4 separate regions of the Homo sapiens genome follow, and regions 2, 3 and 4 are each linked to region 1. The links come from fine-mapping of genetic effects on gene expression. A gene starts in region 1. Each other region holds a variant in brackets. All regions are shown on one strand. Distances are from middle to middle.

Region 1 (6,380 bases):
AAATGGGAAACTTTTAGAACAGATCCTAAAATTTAGTATTATTTGAAGTTTTCTGTTAAACGATGCATTTTTCATTTAATTAATGGTAATTTTGGACAACAAATATTTTCAGTCTCCCAGGTTTGTGTGCCTAACGGCAGACTTAAAACTGTTTCCTCATCTGCTCAAGCACACCATACACAGAAATGCTAACAGTTGTTCTCCATGTGGTGATTATTACTGACTTATTTACTTACAATAATTGTAACTTTTTTGTAGTCTTTAGACGAACAATATACATGCCATTTTTAAAAAAATTTTTTTGGAGAAAGGGTTTTGCTCTCTCACCCAGGCTGGAGTGCAGTGGCGTGGTCACAGCTCACTGCAACCTAGACCTCCTGGGCTCAAGCAATCCTCCTGCCTCAACCTCCTGAGTAGCTGAGACTACAGGCGCTCAGAACCATGCCAGGCTAATTTTTTGGTAGAGACACTTAACTGCTATGTTGCCCAGGATGATCCTGAACTCTCGGGCTCAAGCAATCCTCCTGCCTCAGCCTCGCAAAGTGCTGGGATTACAGGTGTGAGCCACCACGCCCAGCCTGCAGGCCATTATTTTTTATTTAAACAACACATTAAAGAAATCTAGCCTGAATGGCGACTTCTATGCTAATTTTTAATCTCTAAGGAATTAGTGAATATTTGAAGAACCTTTTTCAATCCACTCACAAACCAATCTTAACAGTTTCCTTCTATCTTTAATCAAAATCCGAATACATGCTAATATATTAAACCTGATGATTCCCTCTCTAAAAACCCTGCTATATTTCATTTAGCTACCTCATATAAGAAATACGTCTTTCACACTGGACAGAGTGGCTTATACCGGTAAATCCCAACACTTTGGGGGTGAGGCAGGAGGACTCTGAGACCAGCCTGGGCAACACAGTGAGACCCTGTCTCTATATTAAAAACAAAAGAAAGAAATATGCCTTTCCCATAAAATGAGCTTATAATACGCTCTTCATAATGAATTCCCTAACATGTCCACGAGATCTTAGTTCTTAAGGCAATGAAACTACCTCCTTGCCTTAACTAAACACCAGCTTTTTAGAGTCCTTATCTTTTACCATTACATACTGAAATATTTACAGATTTATTGACGTAATATCTGAGTTGCTTCCAAATAACAAGGTATAAATAAAAATGCCCCCTCCTCCACAAACATACCAGATTTAGGGGTGTAATCCTGGCTATACCAATTTCCGTCTGGGCAAACTCTTTAATTTCCAAGTTTCTATTCCCATAATATCTAACTTGCATAGCTGATGTGACAATTAAATAAAACAATACATGTAAACAATCTCTAATATACATAGTAGGGATTGAAATTGCCAATAATGTGCTCCTTTGATAAGAAAATGATAAAATATCAATAGAACATCATATATACTGAAAATGCACCAATACATCTTCAGATATTACACACAATCAAAACATTTTCCATTTGTCTTTTTATTTAAGAAAACAAGAAATTACTTATCAAGGACAATATGCTCCAAATTTCTACGGCACTTCCAAAATTTTAGGGAAAATATCAGACTCCCATTAAAAAAAAAAATCAAACAAGATTCTGATTTCACTTTGACTTTTAAGGTTTAAAGCTACTTAATTGTGGCTACTCCCCCTAAGGATCTCAAACAGGAAATAACTAAAGTTAATGGTAAATATACACTTAGCATAACACTAAGGTTAAAAATTACGTGCATTCATTTGTATTCACTGCTTACTGAAACTTCTGTTTTGCAAAACAAGAATTTTGCATAATATACATTTGTAATCTTTTGAAAATAACTGTTATTCATTCTATAGTTAAAATCCTTCTAAGGGTTCTTTGATCAAAAAATTGACTGGGCACTTATTTTGTGCCAGGCACTGTTCCATTTACTTTGTTTATACAAATGCTGAGTTATCACTTCCATTTTACTTTAGGAATAAAGTTTATGAGCAGTCTTGAGTATTCCCAGAGGTGTACAAGTGTTTTTTTCTTATTATGTGAAAGGCAACTGATTGAACGCTTTGATTCCATTTAAGCAAGACAAAAACCAAGTATGTGAACTATGACGTTCAGAACTTAACAAGTTTGAAAGTCTCAGAGGTAAGCAGCTTCCAGGGAAGATAACGCCAGAGCAAGTTCCATGGTCTCTACCCAGTGAAGGAGTTCAGCGGTCCTGTTATCTTGAATTTATTTAACGCTGTAGTTCACTACCTTCCAAACAGAAAACAAGTCTCTAGACAGCCTATTTTGACGAGCCTCCCACCCACCGACACTACTCATCTTTGGAAGTTGAAGATAGGCGGAGCTCCCCACATTGACACCTGCAGTAGGCCCAGGTTCCTGCTTGGAGAGCACCTGAGTAGCTAATAGCCAACTACAGATCGCCTGGATAAGCAGCACTCGCCAGGTCCCTTGGCCTTTCCAACCTCCTCCCCCGAACCTGCCTTGCTTTGACCGAGACCCCCAGGACTGCCAGGACGGAGACCAGGCGGAACCGCGGCCTCCAGTACACTTTCCACGGCGCCATCTTGAGAAGGGAAAGGGTGACACCCGTCGCTCCCTCAGTCAGTCCCCAAATCCCGGTCTCCAGAGCCCCTGGAGGATGAGTCACCAGGGCTGGCAGAACAAGACGCCGGGTTCGATAGTTCTCTGGTCCAGGGCACTGCTGCGCGTGAGGGAGAAGGGGTGGGGGGTCTCAGTACCGGCAGGGCCGCGGACAGGCTGGGGACCGCGGATAACCTGGGGTCCAGGCCCCCGCTGCGCAGGAGGAGGGGCGGTTCGGTTACCTGAGACCGCAGCAAGCCGAGCTGCGGGGCCGAAGCTTCCTGGCAGCAAGGCCCAGGCGTGGCCCGTAGGATGAGAGTGTATCTATGGCGGTGGTGGTGGCGGCGGCGGCGTCGCCTGCTCTTAGCGCCGCTCCCCTCACACTGGACTGTGCGGGGCTCGTGCCGTGGTGCCGCCCCTGTCGGGCTCCGTCTCCGCCTCTCGCCGCTCCCCCTTCCTCTTTCCTTTCTCCTCCTCCGCCGCCGCCGCCGCCGCCGGCGCTGGAGTTCCGACTAATTCTTCCTCCTCCTCCTCCCTCTGCCTCCTCCCCTAAGGCCAGCCGCCGGCTCCTTCACGAACCAAAACACAAACACTCAAGTCCCACCGCCGGAGCCACTTCCGCTGCCCGGTGCCGGCCCCGCCGCCACGTCGCTGCACGCAGCGAACTGCGCCACTTCGTCACTTCCCATCATCGCCAGTCCGCCTGCTCCTTCCGCTTCCTCGCCCCTTCCCGAATCCCTCCCCGCCTAGGTTTGTTCGCGGGGCGGGGCGAGGCAGGATGTCACGTGACCCTGCGAGTGGCTCAGATCCGAACTGGCCGCCTTTCTCCCCTTCCCCCACCCCAGGTACGCGCGGCCACGCCCTCTCCAGCGCCATTGTTATTTAGGCTGGGGGGTCTCTGGGCTCCTGGCGGCCGGGGTCGGGGGAAATTCCTTTACTATTCTTTGGGGGAAGATCAAAATAACTTGTGTTTTTTTGTTTGTTTTTTGTGCCCAGCCCTTGTGGGAGCGGCGAGGTTCCCTAACCCCAATCCTGGCATCTCGGCTAAGGGGCTTTATTAGAGGGAACTTGTCTAGCACGAGAGAACCTCCTCCCACAAAATGGCCCTGGGGTTGGGTAGGTCGGTAAAGGCTGCTAAATCGCATTTACCCCAAGGAGGAAGAAAGGACCCTCCCTATCCCAAAAGCCGCCTTTAGGCGCCTGACAATAAGAAGTCGCTTCTGTTAAGAGTTTACGTGGTTTTGGTAGGGGGCGGGGAAGGCCAAATCCTAAAATAGTGTCTGCCTTTTATTCAGAATTTCCCTTCGCTCTTTACTGTACTAAACGCTTTACAGGAATTATCCCATTGAATTCTTACACTCGAGTCTTTCATTCTGAAACTAACTTGTTAATCGTCTGTTCCCTACATTCGAATTTTAGCTCCCCTTGGTGGTCCTCACCGCTGTAAATCTATGTCTAGCCCAGTGCCTGGCAGCCAAGTCTTCAGTTCTAGTTGTAGATGTTTTATAGGTAAAGAATTTGAGACACAAGAGATTGAGTAACTTGTCCGAGATCACGGCTGTGTGGTGCAGAAGCTGGATTCTGATCTGCGGCGGGTTGGCTCCAGAACGTGAGTTGTTGAACACAATTCTGGTGAAAGACAACCCAAGATGTTCGTTACCCTCCACGGGGGACCTACTGAAGATGTGCTGCTTTAGTTGAATCCCACACCACATTCAGTCTCTGGCGAGGCTTCAGCCACCACCCCCTCCCCAGCCTCCGCCAAAAAAATTGTTTTGATAATTTAGTGGAAGAATATTAAATTGATTTTCCTTCAGAATAAAGGCTACTTTTCAGTTTGCAGTTTACAATGTATAGCTCTGTTGTAAGGGCGAGAATATTGTCTTTGAAGTGTACCGGGTTAAGGTATCTTATGGGCGTACAGTCGGCGGCATTGTGCAATTAAGATGATTTGAACTTTGAACAGCCCGTCTTTCAGATCAACTACCTAGTTGCCAGAAGAACGTAATGTGTCATACGTAAATGATACCTGTGGCATTTTATTCTCAAGGAGTTGTTCAATATGAACTATTAATCATGGTAATAGCTCTGGGACAATCCCAGGAGGAGTCAGGAAATAGGATATGTGACATCAGTTTTGTCATGTCAACAGTATGCCCAAAACGAAACCTATTCCACTCCAAACCTGCTTCTGCTTAGAGACTGGCATTAACATCCTCCCAGTCACCCAGACTTGGAACTGCAGAATCAGCTTCACCTCTTTCTTCTCCTCACAAACCATTGTCCATTCTATCAACAAATTATCTAATCCCCAAATTTGAAGTCTAATCCCAACACCTGGTCCATGGTAGTGTTTATATAAACTGAAATTAATGCATACTGCTGTTCTTTCTGTCCATTCTTTACATTTTAGCCACTCTACTAAAAAATGTTCAATGCTATGTCATTACTTGACAGTCTAAAGTTCTTTAACTCTAGTCCCAACCCAAGTTTCTTTCATTCTATTTCTATAGAATTCCTCTCCCCATACTCTTTATTTGTTCCCTGATCACACGTATCTGGTCTGTGTTCCCTGAATATTGCCTGTGTGTTGCCATCTTGGTATCTGATCACTTTATTTTCTCCACATGGAACACTATCATTGCCCATAACTGCTGGCTCCGTCTTAGCCAGGACACCAGTTCCTTTGGACCGCATCTGCAGATACTTCTACTGGATTCAATTATTATTTTTTCTGTAATTTCACAATACTTTGCCTTACTCTGTATAATGGCTGTCTTAAAATCTGCCTTATTTTAATAGCTAATGAGCACCTGGACTTTTCTCCTTAGCCTTTCATTGAATTATAAGGTTTTTAAGGGCTGTGACCATCAGTTATTCATCATTTCAGTTCTTCACAGAAGACCCTTGACTGCTATAATAGGGACCCCCAAAGTATTGGTGAACTTAATTACATTTAGAATCACGAACATTAAGAAGACCTCACAATGAAAAACATTTGATGCTGAAATTTATAAATTGCAAAAAACTCCCTATTTCATCGTTCCAGTATGTTGCTTCTTCACTCGTTCCTGTTTAGTGATTTTGTCTTCACCTCCTTCATGAATACTTTTCACAATATTTTACAGTTTAGTCATAATGTTTGCCTGGAAGAGTGCTGCCCTGGTGGCTGGCATTTCTAAAGATCCGGTAGTAGTTTTAGAGAAATTGAAATGACACAGTAAAGCTCTGTTGTTTTATTGCCACTTGCAATATGCCTATGTTTTCTTTTTCATAGCCCCAGATAACTGAGGAGGACTGATAATTGTATATATTTTAGTGTCAAATGTGGAGTCCTACCAGTTGATAGAACTTGTTAAGGAAGGTACAAAATGGATAAATAATCATGAAGACTTAAACACTGTCTTTGATGCTTATACTGCCCTCAAATCTCTAAATACTCAATAACAAATTCCCAGTGGCAGGTGTCTCTCTACCATTCACAGGATCCCATAACCTTTTCCTTCTCTTCCAGGAAATCTGTCCTCCCTTGTGTAGCTAAAGAATGAATCTTTGCATAGATGATAATGAATGGTTACATTTACTTTTAACTGGAACTGTCTGGAGACAATTCAAAATTTTTCCTGGAGACAAACCAACGGTAACTCTAACATTGGCGTAGTAGCAAGTCAGTGAATAAAAGGCTGTGAAAACTTAAGCTAGTCATGTTTCAAAAGCTTGTGTCTTTGGAGGGCATCATTCAGGCTTCAGCTCAAATGTCATCTACCTAAGGGACTTCTAAGCCCACTAATTCTAAATGCTT
Region 2 (6,380 bases), 77 kb before region 1:
CCAGGCACTTCTTGGCCTAGTGAGAAGTAATGGGCACTGAGAAATATGGGTGGGACCAAAGGAAATTTAACTCATGCCAACAATTTGACTTACAGGTTGGGTTGCTAGCCCTCAGCAAAACCAAATGAAAGCTTCAGGAAGTTAGCACTACTAGCCACATCCGTACATCTTAAAACACACACCTGGAATGTTTTAACAGCTGGAATCCAATTTCTGAGGTGATTCATGAGAAAGTCAAATTTGATATAGCGTCCACCAATAATAAAACAACAAGAGTTGGCCAGGCGCGGTGGCTCACATCTGTAATCTCAGCACTTTGAGAGGTTGAGGTGGGTGGATCACCTGAGGTCAGGAGTTCGAGACTGGCCTGGCCAACATGGTGAAACTCCGTCTCTACTAAAAATACACAAATTAGCTGGGCATGTTGGTGGGCATCTGTAATCCCAGCTACTCGGGAGGCTGAGGCGGGAGAATTGCTTGAACCCGGGAGGCGGACATTGCAGTGAGCCGAGATTGCACCACTGCACCACAGCCTAGGCAACAGAGCGAGACTCTGTCTCAAAAAAAAAAAAGAAGAGCTAACGGTTTTGGAGAACCTACTGCATGTTAGGTACTGTGATAACCCCTTTTTGCAAAACACGCTATGTAATCCTACCAGGATAGAAAAAGCTGTTCTCATTTTACAGATGAGGAACCTGAGGCTCAGAGAAGTTAGATTATTTTCACCAGAGTCTATTCTGCACTTAACACTTTGGTTTTCAGCCAATAACAATTGTGGCTACCATCTATTTACTTTTTATTTATTTAATTAATTAATTTTTTGAGACAAAGCTTTGCTTTGTCACTCAGGCTGGAATGCAGTGGCACAATTACAGCTCACTGCAGTCTCGACTTCCCCGGCTCAAGTGATCCTCCCACTTAAGCTGCCCGAGTGGCTTAGACTACAGGCATGCACCACCATGCCCTGCTAATTTTTTTTTTTTTTTTTTTGAGACACAGTCTCACTCTGTTGCCCAGGCTGGAGTGCAGTGGTGTGATCTCAGCTCACTGCTACCTCCACCTCCTGGGTTCAAGCGATTCTCCTGCCTCCGCCCTCGTGTAGCTGGGATTACAGGTGCTCCACTATGCCCGGCTAACTTTTTTGGTACTTTTAGTAGAGACAGGGTTTCACCATGTAGGCCAGGCTGGCCTCGAACTCCTGACCTCAAATGATCCACCCACCTTGGTCTCCCAAAGTTTTTGGATTACAGGTATGAGCCACTGCACCCAGCCCCAGCTAATTTTTTAAAAAAAATTTTGTATAGACAGGGGTCTCACTATGTTGCTCAGGCTGATCTTAAACTTCTGGGCTCAAGCAGTCCTCCCACCTTAGCCTTCCAAAGTGCTGAGATTACAGGCGTGCCCAACTTTTTAAATTTAAATTTTTTTTTTTGTTTTTTCATTCACATGATGAGTATTGCAAAATGGCTAACATTTATTGAGAGCCAACTAAGGGCCTGAACATGGGTTGTAACTAATTTAATCTTCACAACAACCCTGTATTTGGAAGCATTTAGTGGTTTTATTTGCAATAAAGCACCTTCAGCTGCAGCACCTACAATTCTATGTGATAGAAACAAATGTAGTAATAGATGCAGGGTCTCTCCCCCATCTCCTGATTTGAAAGCAGAGGGGAAAATGGGCTCTCTTCTGTCACCCTGCTGAGAATCCTATGCTCTGTGCAGAAGAGGGTATTTTCTATTCCAGAGCAGCACTCTTCAATACATTTTCCTGTGATAAAGGGAATGTTCTCTATTTGCATTATTCAATATGGTAGCTACTGGCCATGTGTGAGTGTGCAAAATGTGGTTGATAAGACTGATAAGCTAAAATTCTAAATAGTTTGAATTTAAATAGCCACCTATTATGGGGCTAATAGCTACCATGTTGGAGAGCACAGTTCTAAGGGAGATGACTGCTTGGTGGCCAAATTCTCAGCAGAGTCCACTCTGGCTTCTCTTACCTCTTCTATTGGCCAGCTTCTGAGGCACGTATCTTCAGACTAAGACCTCACTGCTAAGAACTGAGGATGAGGGAAAAATATGGGAATCTTTCTTACTCCCTCTATTAAAAACTAAATATTTAAGAGCTCAAATGATTACTCTATTTGTTTATTAATTTATTTAATAAATATTTATGAAACTTTTACTATATAGCAGGCATATTTACTACGAATCTATGAATTGGCTCTGGGATTAAAAAGGCAAGCAGGATGGGAATGAAGAGACAGACATTGCTTAAATAATCAAACAAATACACCATTACAAACTTGAATCAGCCGGGTATGGTGGCTCATGCCTGTAATCCCAGCACTTTGGGAGGCTGAGGCAGCAAATCACTTGAGATCGGGAGTTCAGACCAGCCTGACCAACATGAAGAAACCCCGTCTCTACTAAAAATACAAAATTAGCTGGACGTGGTGGCTCATGCCTGTAATCCCAGCTACTCGGGAGGCTGAGGCGGGAGAATCACTTGAACCTGGGAAGTGGAGGTTGTGGTGAGCCAAGATCGAGCCATTGCACTCCAGCCTGGGCAACAAGAGCAAAACTCTGTCTCAAAAAAAAAAAAAAAAAGTCTAGACTCGGTGGCTAACACCTGTAATCCCAGCACTTTGGGAGACCGAGGTGAGTGGATCACCTGAGGTCAGAAGTTCGAGACCAGCCTGACCAACATGGAGAAACCCCGTCTCTACTAAAAATACAAAATTAGCCAGGCGTGGTGGCACGTGCCTGTAATCCCAGCTACTCAGGAGGCTAAGGCAGGAGAATCGCTTAAACCTGGGAGGTGGAGGTTGCAGTGAGCTGAGATCGTGCCATTGCACTCTGGCCTGGGCAACAGAGCAAGACTCCGTCTCACATAAGTAAGTAAGTAAGTAAGTAAGTAAGTAAATAAATAAATAAATAAATAAATAAATAAATAAATAAATAAAATAAAATAAAAAACTTGAATCAATGCAAAGCATAAGGAGTTCTGGAGGCATTTGACAAAGTGTGGAGGATTCCTGTGAAGCATCAGGAAACATTTTTCTGATGATGCTAAAGTTCAGCTTGTGGAAATGAGGTTTTAATTGAGGAATGAGTTAGAATTAACTGAGTGCCAGTGGAGAGAAAAGCCTTTGAGCAGAGAGAATAGCATGTACAGGCCTGAGGTGGGCAGAGTGTGGATTATGTTTGAGGAATGTTAATGAATGGGAAAGTGGGGAGAGATTAGGCTGAAGAGTCAGGCTTTGGCCAGGCCCTACAGAAC[C/T]TTTCTCATCATATTAGGACTTTTGACCTTTATTCCAGAAACAGTGGAAAGCTACTGAAAGGTTTTAAGCAGAAGAGTGATATGGTTAGAAAATAAACTTAAAAAAAAAAAAAAAAGCAAAACTTGGCTTTTACAAGGGCCTCATTGTTCCCTGTTCCTTCCTTCCTTCCTCCTTCAGCAAGCAGGCAGGTGACTTCCCCCAGACACAGGGCTGCAGCTGGCCCCAGAAGCAGTTCCTCAGAACAGATTAGAAGTGCTTGGTCCTGGGCCCAGGGGATGAATGGAGCTAAGCTATGTTCTCTCCTCTAATACTCTGTGTGTTCTCTCTGTGTGTTTCTGCCATTAAATAAATACTGGGGGTATTTATAAGAACTGTCAGCAAACCACCCACTCCTTCTCTGCCACAGGCCCAGAAGCCCTCAAACAGTAACAGCCTGTACCAGAATCTCCACGATATCCAAAGAGACAGCTCCGAAAGGAATACTAAATATAACTTTCTTCCACACAGGCTGGTGCCTGCTGCCTTGACTTTTACAATCATAGTTGTGGAACATGTAAGAAACTTGAATTCAACGGGCAGTTTTAAGCCAAACAAGGGCTGCCTACTGGAGAGATTGGCTGTGAATATTTTCTAATCTGACCACCTTCCCATTAAGCCATATGTATTTGATTGTCCTGAAGTTGGGAGGATGACAAGCCAAAGAATTTATTCCAGTGGGAGTAAGGCAAGAATGGAAGAGGGAGAACCAGATATTAAGATTTGTGAATGTATTTGAAGTTCAACGCTTTCAAATAATGTGAAAGAAACATCTAAGCAAATGTATCACTGATTGTCCTCTTCTTCCAAAATGAATTGATTTTTACAGCCACTTTGGAAGACAGTTTGGCAGTTTCTGACAAACTGTTTGCAGGTCAACACACCTGGGCTCTGCCATTTATTGCAGCAAAGTTAACTCACTTTCTAGAGCTTTAGGGTCCTTGTCTGTAAAGTAGATTATTAGTGCCTGTGTGCAGGGTTGTTGTATGGTTGAGAGACAATGTGGGTGGAATGCTTAGAAAGAGCCCAGCACATGGTCAGCACTGATAATGTTATTATCTAGTAGTGCATCTGTGTGTCTGTCTTCCCCATGACAGGCACTGAGCTCATCAAGCACAGAGACCTGCTGTTGGCCTTTATGTCTAGTGCCTACCCCTGCAGGTGCTCAATATATAAAATAATTAATTGAAATAACCATCTTAAAATAAAGGAATTCTTCTCTTGCATTGTTATCTTTCCCAAGATAGTGGTCTATCTTCTAATTTCCTACAACATTCACTGTTTATTTGTATGTGTTTCAGATATGAATTAGGGGGAAAAAATTACTAGATGCACTTCCAGAAAGATATTTTCTCAGAATGCCCTGCTTACACACACACACACCACACTTTAATTAATACATTTTACTTTTGAGTAGTTTTAGGTTTACAAAAAAATTGAGCAGAAAGTACAGACACTTCCAATATACACTTCACTGCCTCCCACCACTTCTTTCCCTTATTATTAACATCTTGCATTAGCGTGGTACATTTGTTATAGTTGATGAGCCAATATTGATATATCATTATAAACTAAAGTCCATAGTTGACATTAAAGTTCACTTTTTGTGTTGTACATTCTATAGGTTTTGACAAATGTGTCACAAGTATTCACCATTACATTATCATACAGAATAGTTTTACAGCCCTAAAAATCTCCTGTTCTCCACCTATTCATCCCTTCTTCTCCTGAACCCCTGGAAACCACTGATCATTTTACTGTCTCCATAGTATTGTCTTTTACAGAATGTCATATAATTAGAATTATATAGTATGTAGCTGTTTCCAGTTGGCTTGCTTTCTCTTCCTACCTTTCTTTCTTTCTTTCTTTCTTTCTTTCTTTCTTTCTTTCTTTCTTTCTTTCTTTCTTTCTTTCCTTCCTTCCTTCTCCTTCCTTCCTTCCTTCCTTTTTTTTCAGGGTCTCACTCTATCACCCAGGCTGGAATGCAGTGGCACACTCTTGCTTCACTGCAACCTCCGCCTCCCAGGCTTCAGTGATCCTCCCACCTCAGCCTCCCAAGTAGCTGGGACTATAGGCCCGCACCACCACACCCAGCTAATTTTTGTATTTTTAGTAGAGACAGGGTTTCGTCATGTTGGCCAGACTGGTCTCGAACTCCAGACCTCAGGTGACCCACCTGCCTCAGCCTCCCAAAGTGCTGGGATTACAGGCGTGAGCCACCATGCCTGGCCTCAGTTGGCTTCCTTCACTTACTGATAGTGATATGCATTTAAGATTCATCCTTGTCTTTTGGGGGCTTGACAACTCATTTCTTTTTTATTTTATTTTATTTTTTTTGAGACGGAGTCTTGATCTGTTGCCAGGCTGGAATGCAGTGGCGCGATCTCAGCTCATTGCAACCTCCACCTCCTGGGTTCAAGCAATTCTCCTACCTCTCAGCCTCCCAAGTGGTTGGGATTACAGGCACGCACCACCACGCCCAGCTAATTTTTGTATTTTTAGTAGAGACGGGGTTACACCATGCTAGTCAGGCGGGTCTCAAACTCCTGACCTCAAGTGATCCACCTGCCTCGGCCTCCCAAAGTGCTGGGATTACAGGCCTGAGCCACCGTACCTGCTTATTTTTATTTTTATTTATTTATTTTTTATCACTGAGCAATGTGTATGGATGTACCATAGTTTGTCTGTTTACCTACTGAAGGATGTCTTGGCTGCTTCCAAGTTTGGCAATTATGAATAAAGCTGCTATAAACACTTATGTGTAGGTTTTTGTGTGAACATAAATTTTCAACTCATTTGGATAAATACCAAGAAGTAACATTGCTAGATCATATGGTTACACTATGTATAGTTTTGTAAAAAACTGCCAAACTGTCTTTCAAAGTAGCCATACCATTTTGCATTCACACCAGTAATGAATGAGAGTTCCTGTTGCTCCACATCCTCACTAGCCTTTGCTGTAGCTAGTGTTTTGGATTGGCCATTCTAGTTAGCTGTGTAGTGGTATCTCGTTGTTTTAGTTTGCAATTCTCTAGTGACATACATTATTAACATCATT
Region 3 (5,690 bases), 27 kb before region 1:
CAGATTGGCAGAACCTTTATGTTTGAATGCCCCTTTAAGAACAACCACATAAGTGTTTGCGTATGTACATATGTGGGGTACACACATGTGCTGATACATATTTGCACATGAGTAGAAGAGGGTTAGGACATAAAGTATGTGTGGGATGGAGGAATTAGGGCAGGATACAATCACTTTCTGCACTGTGAACAATGACTACTTTTACTGTTTTTCTTTTTTATTTTGAGACGGAGTTTTGCTCTTGTTGCCCAGGCTGGAGTGCAATAGTGTGATCTTGGCTCACCACAACCTCCGCCTCCTGGGTTCAAGAGATTCTCCTGCCTCAGCCTCCCAAGTAGCTGGGATTACAGGCATGCACTACCATCTCCAGCTAATTTTGTATTTTTAGTAGAGACAGGGTTTCTCCAAGTTGGTTAGGTTGGTCTTGAACTCCCAACCTCAGGTGATCCACCCACCTCGGCCTCCCAAAGTGCTGGGATTACAGGCGTGAGCCACTGAACCCGGCCTTTATTGTTTAAGTCTACAAAATCTTTGGGTCAGTTTATATATTACAATAATCTATTTAAAAATTTAGGTTTATCAGAAACATTTTATTATATGTAGTACTTTATATTTGTTTTAAAAATCAGTATTTTCTATTACTTGCATGGTTTTGACATTATAACTAATTCAAGTGTTGACATGAAAGAAAAACATACAGGAAAAAAGTGCCTTTCAAATGAGAGTTAAATTTAACATACCTGGAAATCTACTGCTCTTTTATTTGCTAGGTCGGCCTTGTTTCCCGATAAAGCTATTACAATGTTAGGACTTGCTTGCCTCTGAAGTTCTTTAACCCAATTTTTTGCTCTTGCAAAGGACTCCTGTTAAACAAAGAAACAGCCATTGAGCACAGGCTCAAAAAATGGTTACCAAGCATCTTTGTGATACAAGGCTTTAAAAGACTGTCCCAAGTGACTGTGGGAAAGAAATTATTAGGACTATTGTATTATGAGACATTTTCGTTTTTTTTTAAAACCAGATTTTCTAATTCACAAAAGCTTCAGCAGAAAGGTCATGACTATCAGAAAAAGATTTTCCAAAACATTTAATCAAAATTCTGAACACCAAAAGTGGGTACTCAAATTAGTTTTACTGTGGAATGCATCCATACTTACCTCATTTGTGATATCATATACAACTATGGCTGCTTGTGCTCCTCTGTAGTACATTGGTGCTAGGCTATGGTATCGTTCTTGACCAGCTGTATCCCATATTTCAAACTTTACTGTAGTGTCATCAAGACATACAGTTTGGGTTAGAAAAGCAGCTGAAAGAAAAGGACTACAATAAGTCAATCATTTTTCTCCAAATGTTTTCATAATATAGAAAACACCTGCTTGTATACATCTATCAAAATGTCACACTGTACCCCGTAAGTATGTACAACTATTATGTGTCAGTTAAAAGTAATAAATGAGGGGGGAAAAAAAAAGAAAACACCTAGAAACTTGACAGATTGCATACCCACAGCTGATAATAGCTTTAAATACTGGCAAACCTGTGCTTCTAAGCTATTTACATATATGCTTACATATAGGGCCTTTGTAGTGAAATCACAGATTGAAAAACTTCTGCATCTTAAAAAAGCTTGTTATAATACTAAATAAACTTAAGACTACATTTCTTTTCCTTCTTCTTTTTTTTTTTTTTTTTGATACAAGAGTCTCAGACTAGAGTGCAGGGGCGTGATCTCAGCTCACTGCAACCTCCGCCTCCCGGGTTCAAGCAATTCTCCTGCCTCAGCCTCCTGAGTAGCTGGGACTACAGGCATGCACCACCACACGTGGCTAATTTTTGTAGTTTTAGTAGAGATGGGGTTTCACCATGTTGGCCAGGCTGGTCTCGAACTCCTGATCTCAGGTGATCCGCCCACCTTGGCCTCCCAAAGTGCTGGGATGACAGGCGTAAGCCACCAAGCCCAGCGAAGACTGCATTTCAAAATTGCTCTACAATTAAAGAAATGCACTGATAGTCTTAAAAAATGAAGTTGGGGGAAACCCAGTGTGCCTAAAAGTACCATCTATACTGCTGACACCATGTCCTGTTCCATTTTACTAGTTTTTATTGGCGCACACTGGCAATTTAGTCCCAGTCAGTTACCACCAAATTAGTATTTCTTGTTATATTATCTTTTTTTTTCTTTTTCTGAGACACAGTCTTGCTCTATCTCCCAGGCTGGAGTGCCTCCCAAAAGTGCTGAGATTATAGGCGTGAGCCACCGTACCAGGCCTCTTGCTATATTATTTTTTAAAACATTGTGACACTTTAATTGTGGTAGTCATTATTACCTTAACCTAGATTTAATTTGTTCAGTTGATTCAATATTTGCTCCTACCTTTCATTCCCTGCCATAAGAATTTTTTGGATCTGTACTTTCCCTGATTCTAATTTTAACACTAGGAAAGTAGCATTATAGGCCAGGCGTGGTGGCTCATGCCTGTAATCCCAGCACTCTGGGAGGCTGAGGAAGGCAAATCACGAGGTCAGGAGATCAAGACCATCCTGGCCAACATGGTGAAACCCTGTCTCTACTAAAAATACAAAAATTAGCTCGACATGGTGGCGCTTGCCTGTGGTTCCGGTTACTCGGGAGGCTGAGGCAGGAGAGTCGTTTGAACCCATGAGGCAGAGGTTGCAGTGAGCTGAGATCGCACCACTGCACTCCATCCTGGCAACAGAGACTCTGTCTCAAAAAAAAAAAAAAAGTAGCATTATAAAATGATACAATATTGTTAAAATTAAAAGACCTACACACAGCCATTAGACCGCCCTCTGCTGCTGCTCTATCATTCACTGTAAATTGGTATGCTCCTCCCTTCCTTCTACATTTAGCTCAAGGTGTGATATTCAAGCCCTATTTCCAAATTGGTATGCACTTGAATTAC[C/A]ATTTTCTAAAACTGTCATATTATGCAAAAGAATTATGATATATTTCTCTAAATTACAGCCGTTTATCTAGTGACGTTGATAGAGATGTACTAACCAGTATCAAATGTGCTAAAGAAACAAAGTCTAATGAGATATATCTCTTTTACGTTAGACACAACATTTATTTTTCACGCTCTTTTAGGTTAACTGGTTGCTGGCTTTAGTATCAACAACTAAAATCTTCTGAATTTTGCAAACAATACTGTAAACATCTTCATTTGGACCTAGATTCTAATTAATAGTTTTATGAATTCTCATTAATCACATTGTAAATATATTCTAATCCAGTTCAAACTTTTTTTTAACCAACAATTAGCAGAATTGTCCATTTTCTAAAATATTGTATTTATGGTAAAGGATATCCAGACAGCACTATGTCACTTTTTGAAGGTCACGAGAGGTTCTCCTGTAGGATCAAAAAATGTTTTTAAACTAAAATTTTAAACTAAAATTAAGTCCCTAAGACAGTACTCTTACCAAAAAGGAAAAGAGGAAAATAAGTCACAATACATAAGCCTTTTTTCAAGTATAGTTTGATGCAGACTTGCAAAAAAAAAAAAAGGAATTAAAATGTGCACAGACTGTTTCATTTTTCAGACATACTATGATCACAAAGTCTACTAGTACTAAAAACATTCACTTATACGTCCATAAGTAAACTTCAGGCTCAGGGAAATAACTATAGTCATCCCTCAGTATCTGTGGAGGACTGTTTCCAGGACCTCCCCATATATCATGAAGGACTGGTTCTAGAATCCCCAATGGATAACAAAATCTGAGGATGCTCAAGTCCCCGATATAAAATTGCAAAGTATGTGTATATAACCTAAGCACATCCTCCTGTATACTTTAAAGCATCTCTAGATTACTTATAATATCTAATACAATGCCTGCACCTCACGTCATCCACATAGATTCAACATAGTATTAAGTGTGTGGCAAATTTAATTTTTGCTTTTTGGAGCTAAGTTAATTTTTTCCCCCTTAATATTTTCAACTTGCAGTTGGTTGCATTTATAAATGTGGAACTCACAGATTCAGAGGGCCAACTGTATTAGAGATGTTGCCTTAAAGAAAATATGATCCAATTCTCAAGCCAGTTAAAGACACAAGAGGCCACCATACATGTACACCATACATGTACAAAAATGCCAAATACAAAGAAATTGCAACAAATACATTAAGACAAACAAATGCCCATTACCAAGTACATTCTTTCAGAAATACAAAACTATTACATTAACAGGCTAATGAAGAAAAATCCATTTTATTTAAACAAATTACAAAAAGGCATTTGAGTCAATATCCATTCCTAATAAACACACGAGATTCTTCCTTATGGCAAAACAGGGCATCATTCCTAAATCTAGGAACAAAACCAAGGGAAATCATGCTGAACAGGAATGGATCCCATTCAGATTAACAAAGAAGATAATCAATTCATTCCTCAACTCTGCTTAGAAACCTTCCTTCATTCCACCCTAGTTAATATCTCCTACATCTGTGCTCCCAGAGTTCTCTGTGTAATAACGTTTCACACCTTTTATAATCATTGGTTTATATCTTTTTCTTCTCCTTGATTGGGAGTTACTTGAGCAATGACCACAGGTTAAGTATCCCTTATCTGAAATGCTTGGAACCAGGAATGTTTTGGATTTTTAAAGATTTTGTAATATTTGCATAATGAGATATTTTTGGGAAGGGATCCAAGTCAAAACATGAAATTCGTTTGTTTCACATAAAGCTTGTACACATAGCCTGAAGCTAAAATAATTTTGTGCATTAAACCAAGTTTATGTACACTGACTCATCAGAAAGCAAAGGTGTTAAGTGTGGAAATTGTTCACTTGTGACATCATATTGATGCTCGAAGAATTTGGGAGCATTTCAGACTTCAGATTAGGGATGCTCAACTTGTAGTAGCTCCTCTCTGTACCAACATTTAATATAAATCCTTGTTCATACAGATGTTCAAAAATGTCTACTAAAAGAAGGAAGTTCAAAAAGATACATGGAACCATTTAGAGGCTACTTCAGATAACATTTGAATGTAGAGAGAGGCAGCTCCCAAATGTGAAAAAATAGATATTTCACAAGGTATCTACTCAAGTTGTAACACAACCTCAAAAACAACATCAAGATATTTTTCACCTGATAACACTGTACTGGGCCAGGTGCGGTGGCTTCCACCTGTAATCCCAGCACTTTGGGAGGCCGAGGCAGGTGGATCACCTGAGGTCAGGAGTTTGAGACCAGCCTGACCGGTATGGCGAAACCTCGTCTCTACTAAAAATACAAAAACAATTAGCCAGGCATGGTGGTGCATGCCTGTAACCCCAGCTACTCGGAAGGCTGAGGCAGGAGAATCACTTGAACTCGGGAGGCAGAGGTTGCAGTGAGCTGAGATTGTGCCATTGCTCTCCAGCCTGGGCAACAAGAGTGTAACTCTGTCTCAAAACAACAACCACCACCACCACCACCACCACCGTACTACTGTTCATGTGGTATGATAAAGCATAATTTTGGGGGAGAAAAGACCAACATTAGAGGCCAGGGAAAATCAGTTTTATAATATACTTTAAAAAATGAAAAGTGCTACAGTACTAAATGAACAGAAATATTACTGGAATAGTGTAGCCCACTATAATAAACTCTTGATATACATAATACACCCTAAGACGTTCATGATTTCTCAAAGTCCTAAAGTTTTAAAATACTACTAT
Region 4 (5,689 bases), 52 kb before region 1:
GAAGACAGGAATTCTACATGGAAAGCTGACATGAATGATAAATTCACTGTAGTGAGTAATTTTGGTAACAAACCTAATGTGTGTTTTTTTGGTTTGTTTGATGGACATCACGGTGCCTCAGCGGCAGAGTTGACATCAATGGAACTCCCAGTTTTACTTCTCCATCAGCTTTCCAAATTTGATCCTTCTTACCAAATGACAACTGATGAGCAACAAATAATCAATTCCTTTTACACTGTGTTTAGAGAAGAATACGCAGCAATAGAAGACCTCTTTTCTGCCATAAACAAAACAGAAGCAGTGAGGTGTGAGTATGAGGACACACACAAAGCCTTTGCAAAAGCATTTTGGAGAATGGATAGGCTTTTAGGTCTTGGAAGAAAAGAAGTGTCCAGGGTTCAATGGAGTGGCTGCTCTGCAGTTACTTGTATATTGGAAGGCAAACCTAAAAGTCCTTATGCTCATAAGAATTGGAAAAGAAAAAATACCCATGATGGGTTGGCAGAGAGCTCCCCTTCCCAGGAGATGCCAAAAATAATTTCTGGAATATTACATGTTGCAAACACTGGTATGTACATTGAATAGCACCAAATAACACCTTTATGTTTTTGGTTCCTTGCAGCAAAACCCCTCATGCTTCCACAATTTTTTATTGTCTATTATTTAGTGACTTAGTACCTAGAAATTGCATTGATCAATATAAGAAACAACAAATAACCACAATTTAAATGCAGATTGCAGGCACAAAAATAATTGTAATTATTTTTTAAAGAGGCACAGATATGATATAATGTGACAAATACGTTAAAGTTTCCCAAAGGGGTAGCAACACAGTTGTTGATAAGGATGAAAAGCAAAGTTACTACATATGCTTAAATCTGAACAAAATTAAAAACATTTTGTACACTTCCTTTTTTCAGAAAAATGGAAAGTTGTTTGCTCATTGTTAGTGTAGTTGTTTAAATTGGTCAGTTACTCTGATAACTGTATTTGCAATAGGTCATTCTCATGCTCACTGGCCAAGTAGCATCTATTTCATCTCAGAGAGAATAATAGTTCATGCCTCAGTTTTATGAGCGTGTATTCTCTTCTTTAAGAAGTTACCTGTATTGTTTAAAGGTTATTTCAGGGAGTTTAGGAACTTGCCAAAATGGAAAGCTCAGAGGTAAAACTTTTTAGCAAAATTGACATGAGTTCCACACTGAGTTCCATGAGATACTTAACTACAGTTCTACTACCCTTTTCATAGATAGAATTATCATTAATGATAGTGTCCACTTACTGAATATTGAATACAGAGTAATTTCCTCGTCTAGTCTTACAATAACTTTGATATCTAGTGATATCTAAGTATTGTTAACCCAATGTTTCAGATGAGAAATTAAAGCTAAAAAATGTGAGATAATTTGTTCAAGGTCTCAGAAGTAATAGGAATTGGAGTTGGAAATCAGTCCTACCATATCATGTTACCTCTTAAGGGGATTGTTTCCAAAGCCTGAGGAGGCTGGGCCTCCGCGAGTGGGACTTTGTGGCAGAGACAGTGTTGCAAGGCCAGATAATCACAAAGAATACTACAACAAATGTCAAGGTGCCAGAAAGTCAGCCTGTTTCTGATCCAACCTGGTTCTGAGCCTGAAATGTCAAGGGCTCCAGACTAAACAATACCAAGAAAGCTAAGTGCATGTCCACTGCCTCACAGTCTTTGTCGTTTCTCAGGCTCTATGCTGAGGTTCCAAATACTTCATAGACATAATCATTACAGATTTAAGGCCAATCTGTGAACTGACCCATATTCTTGGAATTGGGACCCCTATGGAAGATATCATTAATTATAAAAGTCTTTGTAAAATTAATATGACAAATTATGACATATTCAATAAGTGGATACTGTCATTAAATGTCTAGACACAGCTGTGGGTGGTGGCTCACGCCTGTAATTCCAGCACTTTGGGAGGCCGAGGTGGGTGGATCACCTCAGGTCAGGAGTTTGAGACCAGCCTGGCCAACATAGTGAAACCCCGTCTTTACTAAAAATACAAAAAAAAAAAAAAATTAGCCAGGCGTGGCAGGTGCCTGTAATCCCAGCTACTCAGGAGGCTGAGGCAGGAGAATCGCTTGAGCCTGAGAGGCGGAGGTTGCAGTGAGCTGAGATCACACCACTGCACTCCAGACTGGGCAACAAAGAGAGACTCCGTCTCCAAAAAAATAAAAAATAAAAAAATGGCTGGGCGCGGTGGCTGACGCCTGTAACCAGCATTTTGGGAGGCCAAGGCGGGTGGATCACGAGGTCAGGAGATCGAGACCATCCTGGCCAACCTGGTGAAACCCTGTCTTTCCTAAAAATACAAAAATTAGCTGGGAGTGGTGGTGCATGCCTGTAATCCCAGCTACTCAGGAGGCTGTGGCAGGAGAATGGTGTGAACCCAGGAGGCGGAGGTTGCAGTGAGCTGAGATCATGCCACTGCACTCCAGCCTGGTAACAGAGCAGGACTCTGTCTCAAAAAAAAAAAAAAAAA[G/AAG]TCTAGACACACTGCTGATTGGTTGGTTCTAATCTCCAGGTCAAACAGTTGGATTTAATTTCCAGGCCTATACAATGGTGTTAAACTGTTTGCATCTAGGCATGTTGCATTTTCATAGAAAGACACATGGGTGAAAAAAATTCAAATTGTAAAAGAGAGAACCTGAGGTCATGATTTAGCTACAAAAGTACTTCTGTAAGAAAGAACTTTAAATGACTTTCAGCCATAAGAAAATAATTTTACACAAATTTTTCAAGAATTATTTTGTATTTTATAGAACAGGATTAATTATAGCAAGGGAATTAGGTTTCCCTGTTTAAAATTCATAATATATCAATGTCATCATGACTCTAGAATTTAAAAAAAATTATTACCTTATAATGACATATTAGTTCAATGATGAAGCCATTGAATACAGGTTGAATTTGTGCATGTAGAAAAAGGTACTGCCAAACTCACATTCTTTTTAAAAATGTTTATCTATTTTATTGATACATAATAATTATAAATATTCATGGGGTACCTGTGGCATTTTGATATATGCATATAATATGTAATGATCAAATCAGAGTATTTAAGATATTCATCACCTGAAATGTGTATTATTTCTTTGTGTTGGGAACACTTCAACTCTTCTAGCTATTTTAAGATATACAGTGAATTATTGTTAACTATAGTCACCCTAATGTGCTATCAAACACTAGAACTTATTCCTTGTCTCTAACTGTATGTTTGCACCTTTTTTTTTTTTTGAGACGGAGTCTCACTCTGTTGCCTAGGCTGGAGTGCAGTGGCGCGATCTTGGCTCACTGCAATCTCCGCCTCCCGGGTTTAAGCCATTCTCCTGCCTCAGCCTTCTGAGTAGCTGGGATAACAGGTGCATGCCACCACGGCTGGACAATTTTTGTATTTTTAGTAGAGACAGGGTTTCACCATGCTGGTCAGGCTGGTCCCAAACTCCTGGCCTCAGGTGACCCACCCTCCTCTGCCTCCCAAAGTGCTAGTATTACAGACGTGAGCCACCGTGCCCAGCCTATTTTTGTATTTTTAGTAGAGACAGAGTTTCAACATGTTGGTCAGCCTGGTCTCGAACTCCTGACCTTGTGATCTGCTCATCTCAGCCTCCCAAAAGTGCTGGGATTACAGGGGTGAGCCACTGTGCCTGGACTGTTTGTACTTATTAACCAACCTTACTTTATCTCGTCCTGCCCCGTCCCCAACCTTTCCCAATCTTTGGTAACCATCATTCTGCTTTACCTCATTGAGATCAACAATTTTTAGGACCCACATATGAGAGAGAACATGTAATGTTTGTCTTTCTGGTCTGGCTTATTTCACTTAACATAATGCCCTCAGTTCCATCCATGTTGCTACAAATGACAGAATTTCCTTCTTTTTCATGGCTTCATAGTATTCCGTTGTGTACTTATACTACATTTTCTTTACCCATTCATCTACTGATGGACATTAAGTTGACCCTGTATCTTTACTATTGTGAATAGTGCTGCATAAAACGTGGGGGTGCAGGTATCTCCTTGATATCCATTGGCTACATACTCAGTAGTGGGATCTGCTCCCCATGACTCAAACATCTATCAGAACCCATCTCCAACATTGTTGATAAAATTTCAACATGATGTTTGGGGGGAACAAAAATACATACCATAGCAGGGCCTTTATTATGTTGAGACATGTTTCTTCTATGCCTAATTTGTTGAGAATTTTTATCATGAAGAGATGTTGAATTTTATCAGAAAAATTTGGGGGGCATTTATTGAGATAATCATATGGTATTTCTCCTTCATTCTGTTGGTAATGTGTCATATTTATTTTATTTTTAATGCTTGCTGTATTACAAGTCGTCACGGTGGGCTATTTATCATACTCAGTAGTGGGATCTGCTCCCCATGACTCAAACATCTATCAGAACCCATCTCCAGCATTGTTGATAAAATTTCAACATGATGTTTGGGGTAAACAAAAATACATACCATAGCAGGGCCTTTCTTCTGTTGAGATATGTTTCTTCTATGCCTAATTTGTTGAGAAGTTTTATCATGAAGAGATGTTAAATTTATCAAAAAAATTTTTGGCCATCTATTGAGGTTATCATATGGTATTTCTCCTTCATTCTGTTGGTAATGTGTCATATTTATTTTATTTTTAATGCTTGCTGTATTACAAGTCGTCACGGTGAGCTATGGGGAAAAGTTTTCAATTAGCAATAATCACAACGTGGCTAAACCTCACTGGCTATGATACTGCCTCTGCACAAAGCTTCACATTTATTGATTTCTGTGTGAACCATCCTTGCATCCCTGGAATAAATCCCACTTGATCATGGTGCTTTTTTTAAAAAAAAAAATATGTTGTTTGATTCAGCTTGCTAGTATTTTGTTGAGGATTTTCACATCTACATTCATCAGGGATATTGGCCTATAGTTTTCTTCTTTGTTGTTGTGTGTTTTCTGATTTTGGTATCCAGGTAATGCTGGGCTCATGGAATGAGTTAAAAAGAATTCCTTCCTCTTCAATTTTCTGAAAGTTTGAGAAGAATTGGTGTTAATTCTTTTTTATAAGTTTGGTAGAATTCAGCAGTGAAGCCATCTGGTCCCGGGCTTTTCATTTGGGGGACTTTTTATTACTGACTCAATCCTGCTACTTGTTATTTGTCTGTTCAGGTTTTCTATTTCCTCCTAGTCCAATCTTGGTAGGGTTGTAAGTGTCCACGTGTTTATCCATTTCCTCTAGGTTTTCTAATTTGTTAGGGTATAGTTGTTCAAATAGTCTCTAATGATCTTTTGTTTTTTAGTGGCATCTGTTGTAATGTCTCCTTTTTCATTTCTGATTTTTTTGGGATTTTCTCTCTTTTTTCTTGTTTAGGCTAGCTAATGGTTTATTGACTTTTAAAATCTTTTCATAAAAACAACCTTTTGTTTTATTGCTCCTATGTGTATTTTTTAGTGTCTACCTTGGTTAATTCTGCTCTGATCTTTATTTTTTTTGCTTCTATTAATTTTGAGTTTAGTTTGTCCTGGATTTCCTAGTTTCTTGCAGTGCATTGTTACGTTGTTTATTTGGAGTTTATTACTATAAATTTCCCTATTAGTATCACTTTTGCTGCATCCCATAGGTTTTGGTATGTTATATTTTGATTTTCATTTGTTTCAAGA

Evidence for each region. PIP is the estimated chance that this variant, and not a neighbour inherited with it, causes the effect.
Region 2: its variant is the best candidate, but not a certain one, in a credible set for the expression of RAB5A in testis (GTEx, PIP 0.58).
Region 3: its variant is the best candidate, but not a certain one, in a credible set for the expression of RAB5A in whole blood (TOPMed, PIP 0.53).
Region 4: its variant is the best candidate, but not a certain one, in a credible set for the expression of RAB5A in neutrophils (CEDAR, PIP 0.52).

The regions. Positions count from the first base shown.
Region 1 is chr3:19,943,962-19,950,341 of GRCh38, reverse strand. RAB5A (RAB5A, member RAS oncogene family) reads right to left here and starts at 3,245. Exons shown (of 6, transcript NM_004162.5): 1 at 2,821-3,245. It also overlaps a transcript of EFHB not described here. RefSeq lists enhancers at 1,961-2,560, 2,607-2,656, 3,177-3,226, 3,088-3,257, 3,183-3,352 and 1 more.
Region 2 is chr3:20,021,076-20,027,455 of GRCh38, reverse strand. No RefSeq gene overlaps it. Among named protein-coding and RNA genes, the nearest start is that of PP2D1, 12 kb to the right of the region's middle. RefSeq lists a cis regulatory region at 4,149-4,596. The variant C/T (reference allele first, on the strand shown) is at 3,286.
Region 3 is chr3:19,971,220-19,976,909 of GRCh38, reverse strand. RAB5A (RAB5A, member RAS oncogene family) reads right to left here. Exons shown (of 6, transcript NM_004162.5): 3 at 1,158-1,309; 4 at 741-863. Among named protein-coding and RNA genes, the nearest start is that of RAB5A, 27 kb to the right of the region's middle. The variant C/A (reference allele first, on the strand shown) is at 2,928.
Region 4 is chr3:19,995,909-20,001,597 of GRCh38, reverse strand. PP2D1 (protein phosphatase 2C like domain containing 1) reads left to right here. Exons shown (of 3, transcript NM_001252657.2): 2 at 1-568. It also overlaps the pseudogene RNU4-85P. Among named protein-coding and RNA genes, the nearest start is that of PP2D1, 14 kb to the left of the region's middle. The variant G/AAG (reference allele first, on the strand shown) is at 2,517.